2 separate regions of the Homo sapiens genome follow, and region 1 is linked to region 2. The links come from fine-mapping of genetic effects on gene expression. A gene starts in region 2. The other region holds a variant in brackets. All regions are shown on one strand. Distances are between the middles of the regions. Region 1 holds the start of LOC124903726 (a long non-coding RNA gene). Region 2 holds the start of MON1B (MON1 vesicular trafficking associated B).

What was found.
Region 1: its variant is fine-mapped to the expression of MON1B in coronary artery (GTEx, PIP 0.99). The same link has a PIP of 0.9 or more in anterior cingulate cortex and cerebral cortex.

What each region holds. Positions count from the first base shown.
Region 1 is chr16:77,209,078-77,219,005 of GRCh38, reverse strand. SYCE1L (synaptonemal complex central element protein 1 like) reads right to left here. Exons shown (of 11, transcript NM_001129979.3): 5 at 9,862-9,909; 6 at 9,535-9,589; 7 at 7,730-7,793; 8 at 6,807-6,876; 9 at 6,637-6,724; 10 at 6,360-6,432; 11 at 5,791-6,149. The coding sequence ends at 6,075. It overlaps LOC124903726 (a long non-coding RNA gene), which reads left to right and starts at 6,875. Exons shown (of 2, transcript XR_007065121.1): 1 at 6,875-6,977; 2 at 7,075-7,419. RefSeq lists silencers at 5,846-5,895, 5,926-6,015, 6,126-6,455, 6,516-6,875 and an enhancer at 5,795-6,768. The variant C/T (reference allele first, on the strand shown) is at 3,818.
Region 2 is chr16:77,186,213-77,196,140 of GRCh38, reverse strand. MON1B (MON1 vesicular trafficking associated B) reads right to left here and starts at 4,951. Exons shown (of 6, transcript NM_014940.4): 1 at 4,883-4,951; 2 at 4,508-4,665; 3 at 2,364-2,690; 4 at 987-1,806; 5 at 459-606. The coding sequence starts at 4,655. It overlaps LOC124903725, which reads left to right and starts at 5,575. Exons shown (of 1, transcript XM_047435021.1): 1 at 5,575-6,233. The coding sequence starts at 5,575. The coding sequence ends at 5,919. RefSeq lists enhancers at 4,800-4,849, 4,870-5,159, 4,285-5,233.

The DNA of each region.
Region 1 (9,928 bases), 23 kb before region 2:
TCCAACCTGGGCAACAGAGTGAGACTCAGTCTCAAAAAAAAAAAATTACTGTAGCAACATTATTATCAGGTAAAATAGAATTCAAAGAGATATACAGAGGAGAAGAACACATAAAATAAAAATTAGGCCAGGTGCGGTGACTAACGCCTGTAATCCCCGCACTTTGGGAGGCCAAGGCAGGCGGATCACCTGAGGTCGGGAGTTGGAGAACAGCCCGACTAACATGGAGAAACCCTATCTCTTCTAAAAATACAAAATTAGCTGGGCATGGTGATGCATGCCTGTAATCCCAGCTACCCAGGAGGCTGAGGCAGGAGAATTGCTTGAACCCGGGAGGCGGAGGTTGTGGTCAACTGAGATCACACCATTGCGCTCCAGCCTAGGCAACAAGAGTGAAACGCTATCTCAAAAAAAAAAAAAAAAAAAACTAAACAGATAAAACAGACTCTTTTCTCCTTTAGAAGGCTCAATATAATGATACTAATTTCCTGCATGTTAATGTATATATTTCATTCAATACAAATATCAAATAATAATAGGGGTTTTTTGTTGTTGTTGCTGCTGTTTAATTTTTTTTGAAACAGAGTCTCACACTGCCACAAGGCTAGAGTGCAGTGGCGTGATCTCTGCTCACTGCAACCTCCGCCTCCTGGGTTCAAGTGATTCTCCTGCCTCAGCCTCCCTAGTAGCTGGGACTACAGGCTTGTGCCACCACATCCAGCTAATTTTTTGTATTTTTAGTAGAGACAGGGTTTCACCATGTTAGTCAGGATGGTCTTGATTTCCTGACCTCATAGTCTGCCTGCCTCTGCCCACCAAAGTGCTGGGATTACAGCTGTGAGCCACTGCGCCCAGTCAGGTTTTTTGTTTTTTTGTTTTTTTTTTTTTTTTGGAAATAGACAATATGATTCTAGAGTATGCATAGGAAAGAAACTACCCTTGAAAAATTCTGAAACAGTAGGAAAATATAGAGGAGGTCTCACCAAGTGAGTTTCATAATATTATTTAAGGGTATAATAATAAAAAGTTTGGTATTTGTGTATAAATAGGTAACTAGATAAAGGAATAGAATAAACAGTTCAGAAATTGACCAAAATAGACATGATTATTTGGTATATGGCGAGGATGGCATTGCAGTTGGGGGGATACATGTGCTATTCAGTAAATTCTCTCCAGATTATGTACAGACACAAAATAAATTCCAAATAGTTCAAATATAAACTAAATTATAAAAGCATTAGGGCCCGGGAGCAGTGGCTCACACCTATAATCCCAGCACTTTTGGAGGCTGAGGTGGGTGGATCACCTGAGGTCAGGAGTTTGAGACCAGCCTGGCCAACATGGTGAAACCCCGTCTCTATTAAAAATACAAAAATTAGCTGGATGGGATGGTGGGTGCCTGTAATCCCAGCTCCTCGGGACGCTGCTACAGAATTGCTTGAACCCAGGAGGCAGGGCTTGCGGTGCGCCGAGACTGCACCACTGTACTCCAGCCTAGGCAACAGAGCGAGACTCCATCTTACTAAATAAATAAATAAATAAATAAATGTATTAGAAACGGTGACTTAACATATGGTGGGCAGGAGGGTGGGCAAGTGGTCTCTTCAGGGCAGGGTCCTCGCTAGTGCTGTGGGCACCAGAAGGGGAAGAACAGCCATGTGCTCTCCTCTGGGTAGTAGGATACTGAAATTGGGATATTTTGGGGTGTATGTTTTTTGAAGCTTTGACTGTGATTTTTAAACAATAAAATGTTCTAAAAATATAAAGGTAACCACTGAGAAAGATATTTAATCTCAGAGTGGAAGAGAAATTTATAGGTAATGGGCATTTTAGATAATGTAGGTTTAATAAGACTTTAGAAATAAGAAGACACACGGAAAGTAAAACAGGCTTTCCAAAAATGAGGCACAAAATATAAAGACAATGACTCCAGAAAAGAAGGTCATTAAATGCCTACTGGCTTTCATAAGATACAATTGGAAGGAATCTTTATAACTCTTAAATAGGTCTGATCACAGAAGTAAAACATGACTGCACACACTTGGAAGAAATCAATTAATTTTAGCAGGGCATGGTGACTCACGCCTATAATCCCAGCACTTTGGGAGGCCAAGGTGGGTGGATCATTTGAAGTCAGGAGTTTGAGACCAGCCTGGCCAATATGGTGAAACCCTGTGTCTACTAAAACTACAAAAATTAGCCGGGCGTGTTGGTGGGCACCTGTAGTCCCAGCTACTTGGGTGGCTGAGACAGGAGAATCGCTTGAACCCGGGAGGTGGAGGTTGCAGGGAGCCGAGATTGTGCCACTGCACTCTAGCCTGGGCGACAGAGTGAGAGTCCATCTCAAAAAATAAATAAATAAAAATAAAAAAAGAGATAAATTAATTTCAGAGTTAACACCAAGGAAGGACTACAAGACAAAAAACAGGCACCTAGGCTATTCAAATCATCTCCATCTAATAATGACTTGATAATGAAAGGAAGAAGAATGGAACTAATGTAATCTTTGGGTAAATGTTACTCAAGATTCCAATGAGAAAGATGCTGGGTAGGATTACGGTGAGTAATAGGTCACAAAAACAGAGTTTGAGTTTTGTAGGAAAATGGAAAATGAAGTCTAGGTACTTGTGAATTTTGTAGGTATGGCAAATATGTTAATTCTGCCACTGACCAGTCCCTTAAAACAGCTGGTAGATCAGCAAATAGAATATGCACGGACCTCTCACTGTTCTACTCACTGGTTAGCATCACTGCTTAACAAGATCCTAGAATGGAGAAAAGTAAGAGCTCAATATCCAGGTTCCCAGGAAAAGGTGGCCTGGGATTGTATTCACCTGTACTTGATGTTTTGATTGCTGTCTGAAATCTAAATGAACACAAAATTGAGAGATCAAAAAAGAAATGGTGGATGCCTTTGATTCTCTGAAACGTAACATGCTACATGTCCTCAAAACTTTATGAACGGCCAGTCAGGGTGGCTCACGCCTGTAATCCCAGCACTTTGGGAGGCCAAGGCGGGTGGATCACTTGAGGTCAGGAGTTTGAGACCAGCCTGGCCAACATGGTGAAACCCCGTCACTACTAAAAATACGAAAATTAGCTGGGTGTGGAGGTGGGCGCCTGTAATCCCAGTGACTCGGGAGGGTGAGGCAGGAGAATCCCTTGAACTCAGGAGGTGGAGGTTGCAGTGAGCCGTGATCTCGCCATTGCACTCCAGCCTAGGCAACAAGAATGAAACTCCATCTCAAAAAAAAAAAAAAAAAGGGAATTTAAGTAACCTAACTGTGTAACCTGAAGTTACACAGCTAGTATGCAGCAGAGCTGGGATTCTAACAAACACAGTCTGGCCCTGGGTTCTGTTCTGCTAACTAGTGTGCTCTATTAGGTAGTAATATTATTATCCTCCGGGAGATTCTACTGCAGTCACTTTGGCCACTCTCTCTTCCATGCCTTGTCTAGCTTGCTACTCAGGATGTGCTATGTTTGCATCTCTTCGGGCCCCTCCTCTGACTCCTCTGTTTTTCAGTGGGTTTCTTTCTGGCTTACTTTTTTCAAGAATGTCCTGGCCGGGTGCGGTTGCTCACGCCTGTAATCCCAGCATTCTGGGAGGCCGAGGCGGGCGGATCACGAGGGCAGGAGATCGAGACCATCCTGGATAACACGGTAAAACCCCGTCTCTACTAAAAATACAGAAAAACATTAGCCGGGTGTGGTAGCGGGCACCTGTAGTCCCAGCTACTCTGGAGGCTGAGGCAGGACAATGGCGTGAACCTGGGAGCCGGAGCTTGCAGTGAGCCGAGATGGCGCCACTGCACTC[C/T]AGCCTGGGCGACAGAGCGAGACTCCGTCTCAAAAATAAATAAATAAATAAATAAAAATAATAATAATAATAAAAAGAATGTCCTTCCGCCTTTTGGCAACACTGAGCTCCCCCAGGCTCATTCACATTTGAACCTGAACTACAAGCCAAGAAGCTTGAGAATTATGGTAATTGAATGCAAGCCCTGAGAAAAGCTGTTACAGGAAGTGAGTGAAGACTTCCCAGGCAGCTGTCAATTATTTCAATGAAAGGAGAAGTAGCCCTGCCAGGAAGGTCAGTTGAGTCAGGAGAACACAGGGCAAATCAAAAGCCAAAGTCTCGCTCTGTCGCCCAGGCTGGAGTGTAGTGGCGCCATCTTGGCTCACTGCAACCTCCGCCTTCCGGGTTCAAGCAATTCTCTGCCACAGCCTCCTGAGTAGCTAGGATTCCAGACACCTGCCACCACCAAACCAAGGGGTGTCACCATCTTGGCAAGGCTGGTCTTGAACTCCTGACCTCGTGATCCACCCGCCTCAGCCTCCCAGAGTGCTGGGATTACAGGCGTGAGCCACAGCACCCAGCTGGTCACTGCGTTTTAGAGACATTAAGCAATTTGCCTGAGGTCATCCAGCTGGTGAACAGGGAAACCAGGACTCGAATCCTAGGTGCCCAGTGGTAAATCGGCAGAATATCCAGGCTGACCCCATTTGTGTGACACAGAGAGGATGACAAAGAGGATACTGAAGTTCCTTAGAGATTCCTGGAGACTGGCCTTAGCAAGTAGGTGGTGTCAGTGGGGCAGGGGACCACAGCCTGGGCCTGGAGTCAGCTCTGCCCGGATGCGAGTGGTGACTCGGGGACTAAAGCTCCCTGGGCCTCATCTGTGGACTTGGGATAATAATGGCAACAAACGTGAGACCCAACGTTTATTGAGGGCTTACTGTACAGATTCACTATCTCAATTTTCCTCATCGCTAAATTGGGAATAACAGCAAGAATAGCAGTGAGAATAATAAATGATAGATACCATTTATTGAGCATTTATGTTATAAAAATCTCTGTTCTGAGAGATATACACACCTTAGTGTTCCTCATCTGTAGCCTGGGAATAATAATAATAAATCATATGAACCACTTACTGATCACTTAATGGACAGAAGCCTCTGATCTAAGTGAGTCACACATCTCAGTTCCCATTCTCTAGGGACTGGGAATAGTGAATCATCCCAACAATATGTGAGAGCTGGCATTCACTGAATACTGACTGTGTGCCAGGTCCTCTTCTACACACATTAGATAGTGTCCAACTTGACTGGTCCTTGGCAACTCTCCAGTGTCGTCTCCCATCCCACTCTACCTCATTCCACTCTACCACGCCGGCCTTCTCCAGACGTCTCCTCAAACACAGCGAAGTGCAGCCTCACCTCCCGCCTTGGCATGAGGCATGTCTTCTGCCAGGCCCACCTTTCCCCAGACACCCACAGGGCTCACCCCCTCGCTTCTCTACCTCGCTTCTCCGCTCAGATACCACTTCCTAGGTGAGGCCGTCGCTGACCGCGCTGTTTAAAATCCAGTGCTTAGAACAGTGCCTGGTACCCAGCAGGCAATCGGCAAATGCCTGCTTAGTCAGTACATGCTCAGTCAATGGCCGCAGCCTGCTGCTGGGTGCCTTTGGATTTGGGTCCCAAATGCCGGCCTCCAGAGTGGCGGACACATTTAACAGATCTGAGGTTGCCTGGGGGATGTGACCCCAGAGAAGGACCAGTAGGGCGAAGGCCCCGAGGGGACACGTGTTTTGGAATGTTTGAGACGGGTGGAGAGGCAGCCTTGGCTAGAACCCAATTTGTGAGGGGAGCTCAGATGGGCGGGCATGTCCCAGAGCCAGCGCGAGTCTGCGGGTCTTGCAGAGACTCTGGGTTTCCTGAGACCACCGGAGACGCACAGGCCCCGAGGACCGGAATGGGTTAACACCTGCCCTCCGGCCCCTGTTGACAACATAGATGGTTTGGGAACTCGAGATGAGGCCGTGGGGCGGGGGATACTGACACCCACTTACTCTCTCTGAGTTCAGGAGCATTTACCCAGCCTCTGTACGGCGCCCGGGGCTCGACTGGTGGGAGGGGTCCGGCAGAGGCCCCGCCTCGAGATCCCAGCACGCCCCGCCCCGCTCCACGGTGTAGCACAGACTCCGCGGAGAACGCGAGCATGGTCGGAAATCATCGCCTTTATTTCTTGGCGGGTCTCGAGGGAAGGTCGGGAACGGGCGGGTCCTGCTGGCCTAGAGGGCGTCAGGGGCAGCCACCGGCGGCTCGGGATCCTCCTCGTCGCGAGCGCGGGGGAGCTCAGGTCCGGCCTGCCGGGGGCTGGGTGAGGCTGCGGACCAGGTTCCTACGCTCCTCGCGTCCGCCCGCGTCTGCCCTAGGCCTCCACCGCGGCTTCCTCTGTCCCCGGGGCCGCCCTGCTCCCCACAGACCCCACTCTCGGGGGCCGCTCCCAGGACCCCCGCCCGCTCTCTCCTGACTCGGTCCCTGCCCGCCCCGCCTCCCTTCCTCGGGCTCCCTACCTCTCCCTCGCCGGCCCCGACCTCGGGGGCGCTCCGGACCTGCTCCCCGAATATCTCCAGCTCCGCCTTCAGCCTGCGGAGAAGGGGCCGAGGAGACAGGAGGAAGAGAGCGAGAGTCCAGGGGACGAGGAGGAAGCCACCGAGACGCGGAGACCCGACGACGCCGAGGGAGGCACAGGCCGGGGAAGCGGCAGTCGGGGGCGGAGCGGGGGACCTGGGCGGGTTCCCCTCCGCCCTGCCCCTGCCCTCCTCGCCCACTCCTCCCTTCCCCTCTCACCCGTCATTCACCGCCATGGCGCCCTCGACCTCAGGCGGCGAGTGCAGCCGCCGCTCCACCTCCCGCAGCTTGGCGCGCACCAGCCTCCCTGTCGGTGGGCGGGCGTCAGGGGCAGGGCCGAGGCCCGGGCACATCCCCCTCCCCCCGCCCACCTGGCGCGGGAGGCTCACTCTCCGAGAGCAGCTGCTCCTTGCTTCTCTCCAGGGCACGGATCTCCCGGGCCAGTCGCTGCTCCAGCATCTGCGAGGACAAAGAGGAGGCCTCCCCGTTTGGCCGTCCTCTTGGCTACACGGCCCGCCCCTCCCCTTTTGTGCTTCTCGCGAAGTCTTCACCTACATTAGGTCATTCATTCATTCAACTATTTATTAACTCAATGTGCAGTTCCTGCTGTGGCTGGAGACCCACCCACCTCCCCCTAAACGCTCTCCATGTCTCCAGGCACCTCTCAAACTTGAACTCTTCCCACTCTCCTCATCCTCCATTCCCCAATCTGCGGCTCCTCAACGGTTTCAGGCACCGTCCAGCCCCAGGGCCTTCCTTCTGCACCGATACCTGCACGGCTTCTTCCCTCACTTCCTTCACCTCTGCGTTGAGATGTCACTTGCTTAGAGGCCTTCCCACTGAAGTTCCACGATCTAGCCACTAACTTTCTTGGTGCCTCCACCGTCCCCAACCAGCTTGGGACAGCAAAGACGTGGACTCTTTGATCTGCTACCCTCCCTCCCTGCCTCAAATGCTGACCGGTGCAACCACTGACATTAGCTAAATGAAGGAATGACCTGACCATGGCTTTCCCTGGGCTGCCATTTGCCACTGCAAGGTGAACATACACTAGATGAGCAGGGGGAAAGCAGGATCACAATGGTACTGCACCCGTCTGGGCAGGTGATGCTGGGTGTGGCAGTGGGGCATGGTGAGGCGTAAGTTGATTTTAGATAAAAGCTGAGGGACTGAATAGGTGGGCAAGCGGAAGCAAGGAATCAAGGACTATCCCGCGGCATTGAGCCTGGGCAGGGGTGGACTCTGGGCCAGTCAGTGCGACACTAAAGCCAGGGAGGAGTGGCTTTGGTTGCAGGCAATGATAATGGCTCACGTGGAATTCCCAGAGGTCCTTGTGCTGGCCCATCAGATCCTCCAGCTGTCCTCTGACATCCAACCTGGAGGCCGACACCCAGGAATAAGAGAACACATGCTAGGCCTGACACCCTGTTGGGGGCTCCTCATGCACAGGCCTTCAGATCCTGCCCATGCTCCCTCTGCTGGGAGCCCCTTCATGGGTTTTATCCTCTAAGCTTTGGTTCCCGTAGCACCTCTTCCAACAAACTCTCCCTGATGCAAGCCCTGTTCCCACTTTCTACACAGTGGCCTGCCAGGCCCCAGGCTTGGGAGTTACCCCAGATTCCTCTGTTTGAGACTCTGAAACCTGAGAATTATGGGCAAAAATTTGTTCCATGCACTCTTGCAGCATGTGCTTCCTGGGAAGGGAAAGACAACCCTCAGTCATATTCTCTGAATGACCCATCATTCACTCCAGCAGGAGTGGGAGTTGGGATGTCTGTTCACAGCATTCACCTTTCTTGTTTCTCCTGTTGAATGAGAACCTTCATGGGCCTCTGTTGAGAACATTACCCTGTCCATCCTGTCCCCCATGGAATGAACTCTGCCTTCCCAAGAAAGCTTTGTGAGGCGTGTGGTAATTTGGCACCACAGATTCTATAACATCCTGGCTTGAACCCTAATCTGTTACTTCACCGAGACCCTGGCCAAGTTACTTAACCTCTCTGGGTCTCAGTTTCCTAATATGTAAAATGGTGGTAGTGATGGGAGGGTGACATTAGCCTTAACTCCTATAATTATCATTGTGAGGATTAGGTACATAAATGAGCATAAATGCTCATCATACAGTGTGAGTAGTGTGGTTGAGTATCACACATTAGCTAACATCAGGTTTCCCCATGCAATTAAAATCATGGTGCACCAGGATGAGAGACCTCTGGTAACAGGAGTGTGCTAGGTAAAAGTTCAGAAGATGTCGGGTGTGGTAGCTCACGCCTGTAATCCCAGCACTTTGGGAGGCCAAGGTGGGCAGGATCACCTAAGGTCGAGAGTTCGAGACCAGCCTGACCAACATGGAGAAACCCCATCTCTACTAAAAACACAAAATTAGCCGGGCATGGTGGCACATGCCTGTAATCTCAGCTACTCGGGAGGATGAAGAGATGGATGGATACAGGTTGGATAGACAGTTGACTGGATGTGTGAGTTGCTGGCTGGAGAAATGATAGCTGATTGGAGAAATGATGAGTAGAGGAATAGTGGCTGGACAGAGAAAGAAAGGATTGCTAAAAGGAAGGGTAGATGTCTGGATGGATGTTTGGCTAAGTGAATATATGATGGAAAGAATAAAGAGAGGATGAATGCATGATTGGATGGATGGAAGATTGTTAGGTGGAAGGCCGGAGATAAAACAGCCATCTGGCTGGATGACATGGTTGGATAGATGGATGAATGGATGAATGAGTGAGTAGGTGAATGGCTAGATGGGTGGATAGATGAATGGGTGGGCAAATGGATGACTGGGGCTTAAAATAAGGAGGCAAATAAGCAAGTGAATGGATATCAAAGGAGCTGGATAGCCAACAGAAAAAGACTGAGGCTAAGACCAATGGAGGGAATATATTTGATAAAGAAATTAGTAACGAATAATTAAATGAGTAAATTAATCTTAACACGACCATTTAATATCAGAGATAACCAAGGAAATCTTTTGTCAGGCTGCTCTATTTTATAGAAAGGTAAAATGAGGCTTCTGTGTCCAAGATTCATTTCCACAGCTCTTGCTCCCTCCTTTTTCAGCTGGGGAATGAGGTAGGGAAGAGCTGAGGCAGGGCCTCTTACCTCTGAGCCTCGCTTTCCTTCTCTTGGCAGTGCATCTGGAGGATCCTCAGTGCCTCTGTGGGGAAGGAACCAAGGGGACCCTTTGAGAGCTCTTGGGGAGTCAGGGTTGGCCAGAGGTAATAGGCCCCACATCATGTCAGGCATTGGAGGGCACTGTGAGGACTTGGGTGTTTACTCCAAGTGATGTAGCAATCCAGGAAGAGATCTGTGCAGAGAGGGAAGCACCCTGCCTTAGGTTTCAGTGGGATTCCTCTGGCTGCTCTGAGGAGCATAGACTTTTGTGGGGTGGAAGAGTAGAATAAGGAAGACACAGCAACTGGTAAATACCTTGCTTTTTGCCCAAGACCTCCTCTAGGTGCACTTTCTCTCCATTCACTGGAAAACACAATGACAC
Region 2 (9,928 bases):
GCTGGAGCCCAGAGGAGACCAAAGGGAAGGATACCCCAGGTGGAGGGCACAGCAAGGGACCACGCCTGTAGTCTGAGGAGTGCTGGGGACTCATGGAGTCACAATGAGCTGGTGATGAATGGGGTGCCTCCAAACACATGGATTGGGCTACTGGGGAATCGGCAGGCACAGCAGTGGTAGTTAATGGGGCCTCTGGAAAGTCAAAGACACTGTCCTGGTTGCTAATCTGGGAGAAGCACACAGGAGGGTGAGGCTAATGTCGGATTAGAGACACGGTCATTAGTTGTCAGGGGCTTCAAAGATGTGTGTGTAAAGGCAGGGACAGTGTTGCAGGCAAGGCACAGCCCAGCCAGAGGCCTGCTGTGTTTGGTGGAGGCACTGTGGCTGGAGGGGATACAATATAGGGAAAGGAGGCTTGAAGTGGGGAATTAATTCACTCAGAGCCCTGCCCAACTTACCCAGGCCAGTAGTGTCTCCTTCTCAGCCACGTGGTAAATGAGGCGCAGGGGTCGGGAGGTGCTGTGGAGACGAGCATGCAGGCGGTGGTACAGGTCCGACAGCCGCTGCCGCTCCTCCTCTCTGCTGTAGGGGGCCTCTAGCTCAGGGCTGCCATGATGGAGGGAGGTGGAGGACAAGGTTAGTCCAGGGCCTTCTTGGCTGGCCCATTTCCTCCCTCAGTCTAGAGATTTCAATGAAGTTAGGGAGCTGAGCCTCTCCCATGAGACTTGAGGATTCTCAGGGGTTGGAGGCTGACCTTCCCTCATCAAACTAGGAGATTCCCTGAGTACTAGGGCCCTGCTGTCCACCAGAAGAGGGGGATTCCTTTAGGTCTGTGGCTGATGCTCCATCATCAGACAGAGACTTGTTCTCTTCCCTCTTTCTTAAGCATGGCTGGTTATCTCTCCTGAGTCACATCCCTGAGATGCTGAACTTCCTGGTTTGACAGGCCTTCCCACCCAGCCAGTTGCCTTAGGGTCAGGGCCTACCTGGTAAACTGGGGCAGTTGGCGGTGGTGGTCAGGGATGTCCAGCGGCTTATACAGGAAGTGCCGGAGGCCCGGCGCCCCGACAGCCTGCACGCTGTAGGCAGGAGCACTGGCTGATGAGGCATTAGAGAAGCTGGCAGCCTCCCCAAGGGCACGCATGGCACCAAGGGCATGCATCCCATCTTCAACCAGGCGCCGGCAGGCGGCCATGGCATGGAAGGCTTCACGTTGGGTGCCAAGCAGCAGCAGGCAGACAGGCATAGCATCCAGGCGGGCCACGTAGGCGTAGAAAAAACCATCAGGGTTGAAGCGGGGCAGGCACACAGGTGCCCAAGCCTCACCCGCCGCAAAGGCTGGTGCACCCACCCAGTCGAGCAGCAACTGCAGGTCAGCTGGGTCCAGCCGGCACTCGGCCAGCACATTTCGCTCCTGGGCTGCTGTTATAAGTCGACCGCCTACTGCCAGCACTGACAGCGCCAGGCCAGGCGCTGTGCAACGTCGGAGGAGCGCACCTAGTGCGTCTCGCAGCGGGCGGGCAAGGGGCACACAGCGCACGGCACCCAGGAGCAGGGCTCCTGGGTCCTGCTCCATACTGTCCAGAAGTCGGTCCAGTGTGCGCTCTGAACCAGCCAGCAGGCGGCGGAGGTCATAGTTCTGCTTGTGTGCGAAGATGCGGGCGACACTTGCACGTGTAAGTGTGCTCACGATCTGTGCGTGCACAGCTAGCAGCTCCCCCCGCAGCTGGGCTGCTGACTGAGAAGTCCGTGACATGGCCACGAGCAACAGTGGGCCCTGTTGTAGGAACACCAGCTTGTGGTCCTCTAGGGAAGGAAGGGGTAAGAAGGGGGGGTACAGCTGGATCAGGAATGACCAGAGGGAGACAGTGGGGCTCTTCTGCCCTCTCCTACCATACACACACCAGGCCCGAGTCCACATGCTCACTCTGTGGGCACCTGGACTGGGGTAAGGACAAGCTGGAGGAATCTGGACATTTGCAGAGACATGATGGGATGGACAAAGGAACAAGTAGGTTAGATACACAGCAAAGACCACGGGCAGGCGGGTAGAGATGGTACAAGGGCTGACACAGAGCCAGAAAGACACAGCTCAACCACACAGCCCCCACAGTTATCCTCTCAGGTGACACAGAAGTATCCAGCTAGTCACTGAGATCCCAGCAAGTCAATCACTAAGAAACCAGCAGGCCAGACAGAGATGAACCCCCCCACCTCCCGCCACTGACAGAGCTCTGGCTGACCATCCACACACATGGACCCAACCCTGGCTGGCTGGATAGTGCCTGAGGCAGACAGACCTACCCGTGCCAGCCATATTCCCAGTCACTGTCCCCCATTCTGCCTCCCACCTGTTTGCTCACCAGCGTAGATGGCACGGATGGCATCTCCCGCACTCTGCACAAAGGACACCAGGGCGGTCATTACACCCATGGTAGCCGACAGCGCCTCCACACTACCATACCGCGAGTAGATGGGCTTGCCAGCCTCACTCAGCACAAACACATGCTTCCGCTGGCTGCGCCACTCCTCATCACTGGGGTCCCCGCCCTGGCCTCCAGAGCTACTCTCAGGGCTACATGTGGGACTATTCTCAGGGGCTGCAGGACTCCAGAGCCGAGAGGTGCTTGACAGGGCCTCTGACTGGGGCGGTGGTGATGGGCTGGGTGGCTGGTCCTTGTCCTTGGATCCTGAAAGGGAGCCCCTGGTGGGTCATCTGCATGTGAACTCCTAACTAATCCCACATCCCCAAGGACCCACCAAATATCTACTAGCCCCTCCATGACCCCTGCATGCTGACGCAGAACTCCAAGTGTCTCCTATGCCCCTCAATGACCCGATGACTGCCCTAGGACCCCGCAATGATCTCCACTAACATTTAGGTTCCAATGAACTTCCTAAAACCCTAATAAACCAACATATTCTCATTGTTATTCCACTGGACTTGCTATGTTCCTACAGACCAATTACTTCCCTTTCAATCACTGTTATTCCAAAGTCTTCAAAGCACCCCATTGACTCTGGATGACGATTATTCATCTTCAATGATCCCCCATTAACTCCTCTGACCGCTATTTTTTCTCCTGATATCTGCTCACCCAATGGCCACCATTAACATCTATTAATATCTTAACTGTTTGAATGCCCCAACCCCCGCTACTACCCTATCAGTGATGCCCACTGATACCTGATGACCCCTACTAACTCTCCTGGTTGCCCATTTATATTCTTGGTAATGTCCACTATTTCTCCCAATGACTGTCGTTAATATCCACTAACACCCAGATATTTAGGACTCCCCTAATCCACTATTCACTCCCACTGTGGTTCACAAACACCCCAATGACCCCACATTAACAATCATTAACACCTGGTTTTTCAATGACCCTCCATGACTGCCCTGATCCACAAGTTATTCTACTCCATGTCTACTCCCCCCTACCCCCAACAATGACCATCATTAACCTCCACTAACACCCAGCACTTCAGAGACCTTCAGTCACTCCCCTGACCACCTTCAATCTCATTGGTATCCACTCCCCTCCCTACAGTAACCATCATAATATCCACTAACACACAAGACTTTAATGACTTCCATTGCCCCTACCCATGACCATCATTAACATTCACTAAAACCCACAACTTCAACAGCCCCTACTGACACATCCATTTATTCCCATTGATTTCCATTCATCCCCCAATGACAACCATTATTATCCATGTGCAACTATGTCTCAATAATTTTCCCATAAAATCCCAATAATTGCATATTCTGTCACTGACATTCACTGACACTCCCATGTCCCCAAATATCTTTACTCCCTCCTAATAACTGCTCTTACCTGCTATTAATTCCCAAGTCCTCAACCTCCCCATCCACATTTATTCTCAGTGAGGTCCACTGATCCTTCCCAATGACTCCATTTACATCCACTAATTCCAAAGTGATCAATGGCACAGACTTCTCAGTGACTTCCATTAAATCTCAAATGAACAACTTTACACATCCACTAACATTTGGTCCCTTAAAGACTTCCCCAACAGTCTACAAGTGACTTCAATGATGTAAATACTCTGAGTGCCCATCGAACTCCACTGATTCCCCTTCCCACTTCTATTATTTAATAAATAACACCCTACTCCTCAAAAACACTAACTTCTCAACAGTCCTCCTCTGTTGAGTCTATTGACTTTCTTCAGCGCATTCTTTGATCTAAACACTCTAAATCCTCAGTGACCCTCTTTGGTCCTAACAGCCCCCTTTTTGATTCCTCAATGACCTAAACTCACACCAAACCCCCAGTGAACATCCGTTGACAGCCAATGACTTCCTCAATGATGTAAACTACACCATGTGTCCACAGTGACCTCCTCCTGACCCGGCGATGGTTTAAGCCACTTCTCTTAAGTCCCAAGACTCCCTACTGGTCACCCACTGACCCTTCCCCCGTCCAACAATGACAACCCCTAAGGATTCCTTTTAAGACCCCACTAAGTGGAGTCATACCTGTTTCCTCCAGGCCCTCGTCTTCGGGATCCGGCGGGACCGCGTGAACCCCTCCACCTTCTCTAGCTTCCTCACTGGGGAACTGCGTGTCCTCCAAGTCCTCCGCGCCCCCGGGGGCCGGGGCAGCAGTGTCTCCTCCGACCTCCATCTGCACATCCCTGAGTGGGAGGGGAATCGAGGGTGACGGGCGGTGAAAGAAACTTCTGAAAAGCCTTTATAGAGTCAGGCCCCCTTGGACACACTCCTACTGCTCATTTCCCCACGGATTTCAATAGGACGAGACATCCAAAATCATGCCCAAATACGTCCCCCCTCCAACACTTTCCGAAAAGAGGAGACTCTACTGGGCCTCAGGAAATAGAGATATACAAACACCTGTTTTAACTCCGAATCTCAATTGGCCGGATACCATTACTTCCCCGTAGCGGCGGTGGCATCACACTTCCGGGTGCGGCCCGGGAGGTGCCACACTTCCGGGTACGACCCCTCCCAGAAGACACTTCCGGTTGCGGAGCTTTATTGGCTCCTCGCGGCGTCCCTCTCCCGCCGCCTACGGGTGTCCCCTCATAGTTGAGATGGCGCGGGCCACTTCGGATCTACGTCAGGTCTGTTCGGGAGCGCAATGAGACCTCTCTGCACTCCTTTCAACGGATCTGGCTACGGCTGCTAACCCGGGAGAGCGAGGCCCACTTCGCTTACCAGTGGTTGGCGTGAGGGGGGACGCGGCTCGCTCTAGCCAATCCCGGAGTACATAGGGCGCGACCGTCTTCTTTCTGGGCCAATCGAGATGAGCCGCCTCATTTCCCCGCTGTCTACTCCCCCCGCCAAATCCTAACCAATACTGTGCGTTGTGTTGCGTTTGCACACGCCCATCCATTGATTGACGTCTCCCTCGACCCAATCGAAGACTCGAGCCTATTCCTTGTTTCACAAGAGGACTTTTGCAGCGTCAGTCCCGATGGATACCTGTGCCGGACCCACAAACGGGCTCTCCCAGAACTGAGGCAACTCCACTTTCTCTTATCCCTTAACCCTGCCAAGAAAGTCAAGGGAGGGGAGAGGCGCGAATGCTTGACGGGCAGTCGCCGCTTCTAATCAGCGTGCCGCGCCAGCAGCTCCGTACCCTGCCGGGTTCCCACGTCTACCTGCAGCTGGGGGAAGAACTCTGCCAGCCCAGGGCAGGGGCGGGCACTCACTTGGACCAGGACCTGCCCGACGCCCCCGGTCCGCCGGGCGAACGGGTCGTCACTTTCTGTGATCAGTTTGGGAAAAGGCTTGGGGGCCCTGCCACGGGCCAGTGTGGGAACCCAGGGTTCGAATTCCCGCCCCGACGCTGCTTCCGGACCGAAAGCCCCCTGAACGCCTTGCCCCAAGTGCCCTGGGCCTTGGTTTCTCCATCAGTGAAACAATGATGGGAATCGCTTGACGTGAAGTGAGTGGAGGTGCTGGCACACTTCGAGTGATTGCTAAGGGGAAGCCTTTGGTACTAGTTAGGATAATTATTTTAATTACAGTATAGTTAGGGTAATGAATTCCAAATACCAGTGTAGCATCATGTGCTTTATATACAATAGGTAATCGATAAGTAATAAATATTAAATTTATATAACAGAAACAATGGATAAATTTATGTGCATACAAAATATATTTACCTAATACATTTAGAAGTATATAATATATAATAAACATGTAAAAAAGTACAATAAAATAACATCTCATAAGCAAACTTATTTATTAATCTCGCTGTGTTACCCAGGCTGGAGTGCAATGGCAAAATGTTATTGACTCATTGCAGCCTCCGTCTCCCGGGTTCAAGCAATTCTCCTGCCTCAGCCTCTGGAGTAGCTGGGATTACAGGTGCCCGCCACCACGTCCGGCTAATTTTTGTATTTTTAGTAGACATGGGGTTTCGCCATGTTGGCCAGGCTGGTCTTGAACTCCCGACCTCAGGTGATTCACCCGCCTCAGCTTCCCAAATTGCTGGGATTACAGGAGTGAGCCATCATGCCCAGCCCAGGGCTACACACTTTAAACAACCAGATCTCGCAATAACTCCCTCAGTCACTGTCACCAAGAGGATGATGCTAAACCATTCATGAAGGATTCACCCCCAAGATCCGATCAACTCCCACCAGACCCCACCTTCAATAATGGGGATTACCATTCGACATCAGATTTCGGTGGGAACATAGATCCAAACCTTATCAGGGGAGTAGAGGAATAGTTACGCCTTCATCTAGCTTTGTCAATCTGCATTTTTACCTCAGAGGAAGCAATCAGATATGCATTTGTTTCAGGTGAGCAGAGGGATGACTTGGGGTTCGCTCCTTTGTCTCGCACCTGTGAAGATAAACTATCAATTTACGTTGTCAGGGTAAAATTCAACAGAACCGTTTTAGGGTAAAGATCTTGCAGCCCACAAGGAATCCCTAGAGGGCAAATTATGAGGGAAGTATGTAGCTTTATCTTTGTAAATATCTTATTTAGGGATAAACTGGGAGGCAGGTTTGCCTGATGCAGTTCCCAGCTTGACTTTTACCTTTGGCTTAGTAATTTTGGAGTCCTGAGATTTATTTTCCTTTTACACCTGCCTTGTATTTCAACAAAACCATATCACAATTAGGCTCCTTTTAAAAATTCTTGCTGATGTGCTCTGTGAACTTTAAAGATTGTTTTCCAGGGAAAATGGCAGAACTAAGAACAATTGTCACACAGTCTCTTATCTGAAACCCTTAGTGCCAGATGTGTTTTAAATTCACACATTTTCCTGATTTTAGAAATGAAATTAGGTGCATGTGCCATGTATTATATAGAGCCCAGCAAGGGACTGGGAAACACCTGATAACTAAACTCATTTTTTCTGAGTGAAACTTTTTATTACTCCCAGTAAGAGAAACACTAAACCGTCTTATGTTAGTTTAGTTCAGGTTTTACCTCCAAGTGAGCTTTTAAAAATTATTTTTCTGGAGCTTTTTGGATTTCAAAACTGCAGACGTAAGTTTATGGAGCTTTATTAGCATTCCGTGTTTGATGATTTGCCACTCTAAACAATTTCTACAATCAAAGATGAGAGATGGGAACAAGTGAAGGAACATAGAGCCATCTCTGGTGTGTCTGCCTTTTTTTTTTTTTAATCAGAAAAGCAAAGACCAAAAATATCTCAACAAACCTCTCCAGTAGATTTTAAGTTATGGCTCATGGCTTGAACTGCAGAGTGTTTACAAATTGTAGACACACACACAGACACAGAGTTTTTTTCTGTTTGTTTTTTTAACAGATCAAAGATGTCTTTGTGACATTATATATGTTTATACTTCCTGACTTTATGGACACTGTGTAAGTCCCAGGTAATCCCAAGCTACAGATGAGTCTAAGAAAGGACGTAAAGGAAAACACAAAATACTGCCTAGGACTTAAGGACAGGAACTCAGTTAGACCCTCATGTTAAGCCTGAGCTTGATCTCTTACGTACCATTTCTGTTTGATAATAAAGCGTCCAATGTCAGGCTGGGTACAGTGGCTCATGCCTGTAATTCCAGCACTTTGGGAGGCCGAGGCGGGCAGATCACAAGATCAGGAGTTCGAGACCAGCCTGGCCAACATGGTGAAACTAAAAATACAAAAATTAGCAGGGCGTGATGGCAGGTGCCTGTAATTCCAGCTACTTGGGAGTCTGAGGCAGGAAAATCGCTTGAAACCAGAAGGCAGAGGTTGCAGAGAGCCAAGATTGCACCACTGCACTCCGGCCTGGGCAAAAGAGTGAAACTCCATCTCAAAAATAATAATAATAATATTAATAAAATAAATAAATAAAGCACCCAACCTTATAGCTAGGTGAGTATCCAACACCCAGCCCATGATCGAAATCTCAGGCTGTGCAATCACCTGACATCCCATAGTTAGGTGCTCATTCTTTACCAAGGCCTGGTCCCAAACCTGTTCAAAAGAAGAATCATTAACTACAGAAGAGAGGATAGATTTATTTCAAAATCTTACACATCTGTGTAGTGTTTTTTTTTTGTCCTATTGTTGCTTGCCAGATGCTCTGTAGAGCATCCTTATTTGCCATGGACAGTTTGACAATCTATGGGTCTGCTGGATCATAAGCCCCAAGTGGTGGATTAGCTTAACCTGCAGTCTGAACTCACTTTCTTTTGTTCTTCTCACTTGAAATCTACAGGTAATTCTGTAAATGAGTCAAAGTCACACACTGAAATGTGGTATGTGTTGCTTCCAAAATCTAAAAGACTTTTACTATTGTGGATAAATAGTAAAGTATATTTTCTCATTTAAGAATATAATTGACTTATCTAAATGCAAAACCGATGTATTGTGGGGTTTATAATATTTGTAGAAATAAAATGTGTGGCAGCAATAACACAAATGACTGAAGTTATACATGATAGCACATTACTTTAAGGCTCTCACATTTTACATGAAGAATTATTATTTGAAGATATATTGTGAGGAATGAAAGAAGCATTTTGTTGACATGGGGAAAAAAATACAGAAATGCCAAAGAAATTTAATGCCAAAGAAATAATAGGCCAAGAGTTGAGATAAAGTGGAATACTAAGTGTATGCCATCCAAAAGAAAGATGAAAAAGAGGAACAAAACAATAAAGAACAGATTGGACAAATAGAGAACAAACAGCAAGATGCAAGACACTAATTCAACTATGTTAAAAATTGCATTAAATACAAATAAATAGTAGAATTAAAACAGAGATTGTCCAACTGTATATAACATCAGGGCCTAAATATAGGCTCACTACAAGATCTCAATGTAATTATGTGGTCTGTAAAAATATAAATGGGCCAGGCGTGGTGGCTCATGCCTCTAATCCCAGCACTTTGGGAAGTTGAGGTGGGTGGATCACTTGAGGTCAGGAGTTCGAGACCAGCCTGGCCAACATGGTGAAACCCTGTCTCTACTAAAAATATAAAATTAGCTGGGTGTGATGGCATGTGCCTGTAATCCCAGCTACCTGGGAGTCTGAGGCAGGAGAATCAGTTGAACTTGGGAGGTGGAGGCTGCAGTGAGCCAAGATCATGCCATTGTACTCCAGCCTGGGCAAAAAGAGCGAAACTCCATCTCAAAAATAAATAAATAAATAAATAAATAAATAAATAAATAAACACCAACAAAAAAAGGGACTCCTGTAAATATACAAAAAAAAAGCAGATCATTTAAAAGTAAAATGTCAAAACATTTTAAACTATGAGATAATGCAGGTATTATAACATCTGAGGGTCTATGTTACTATCAGAAAAAAATACTTCAAAATAAGAAATATTAAAACAGGACATATCATGATGATACAAAGTTCAAGAATATGTTTTCATCCAGAAGACACAACAATCCTAAATATACATATATGAATGCAAAACTTCAAAATACACAAATGTCAAATTGACAGA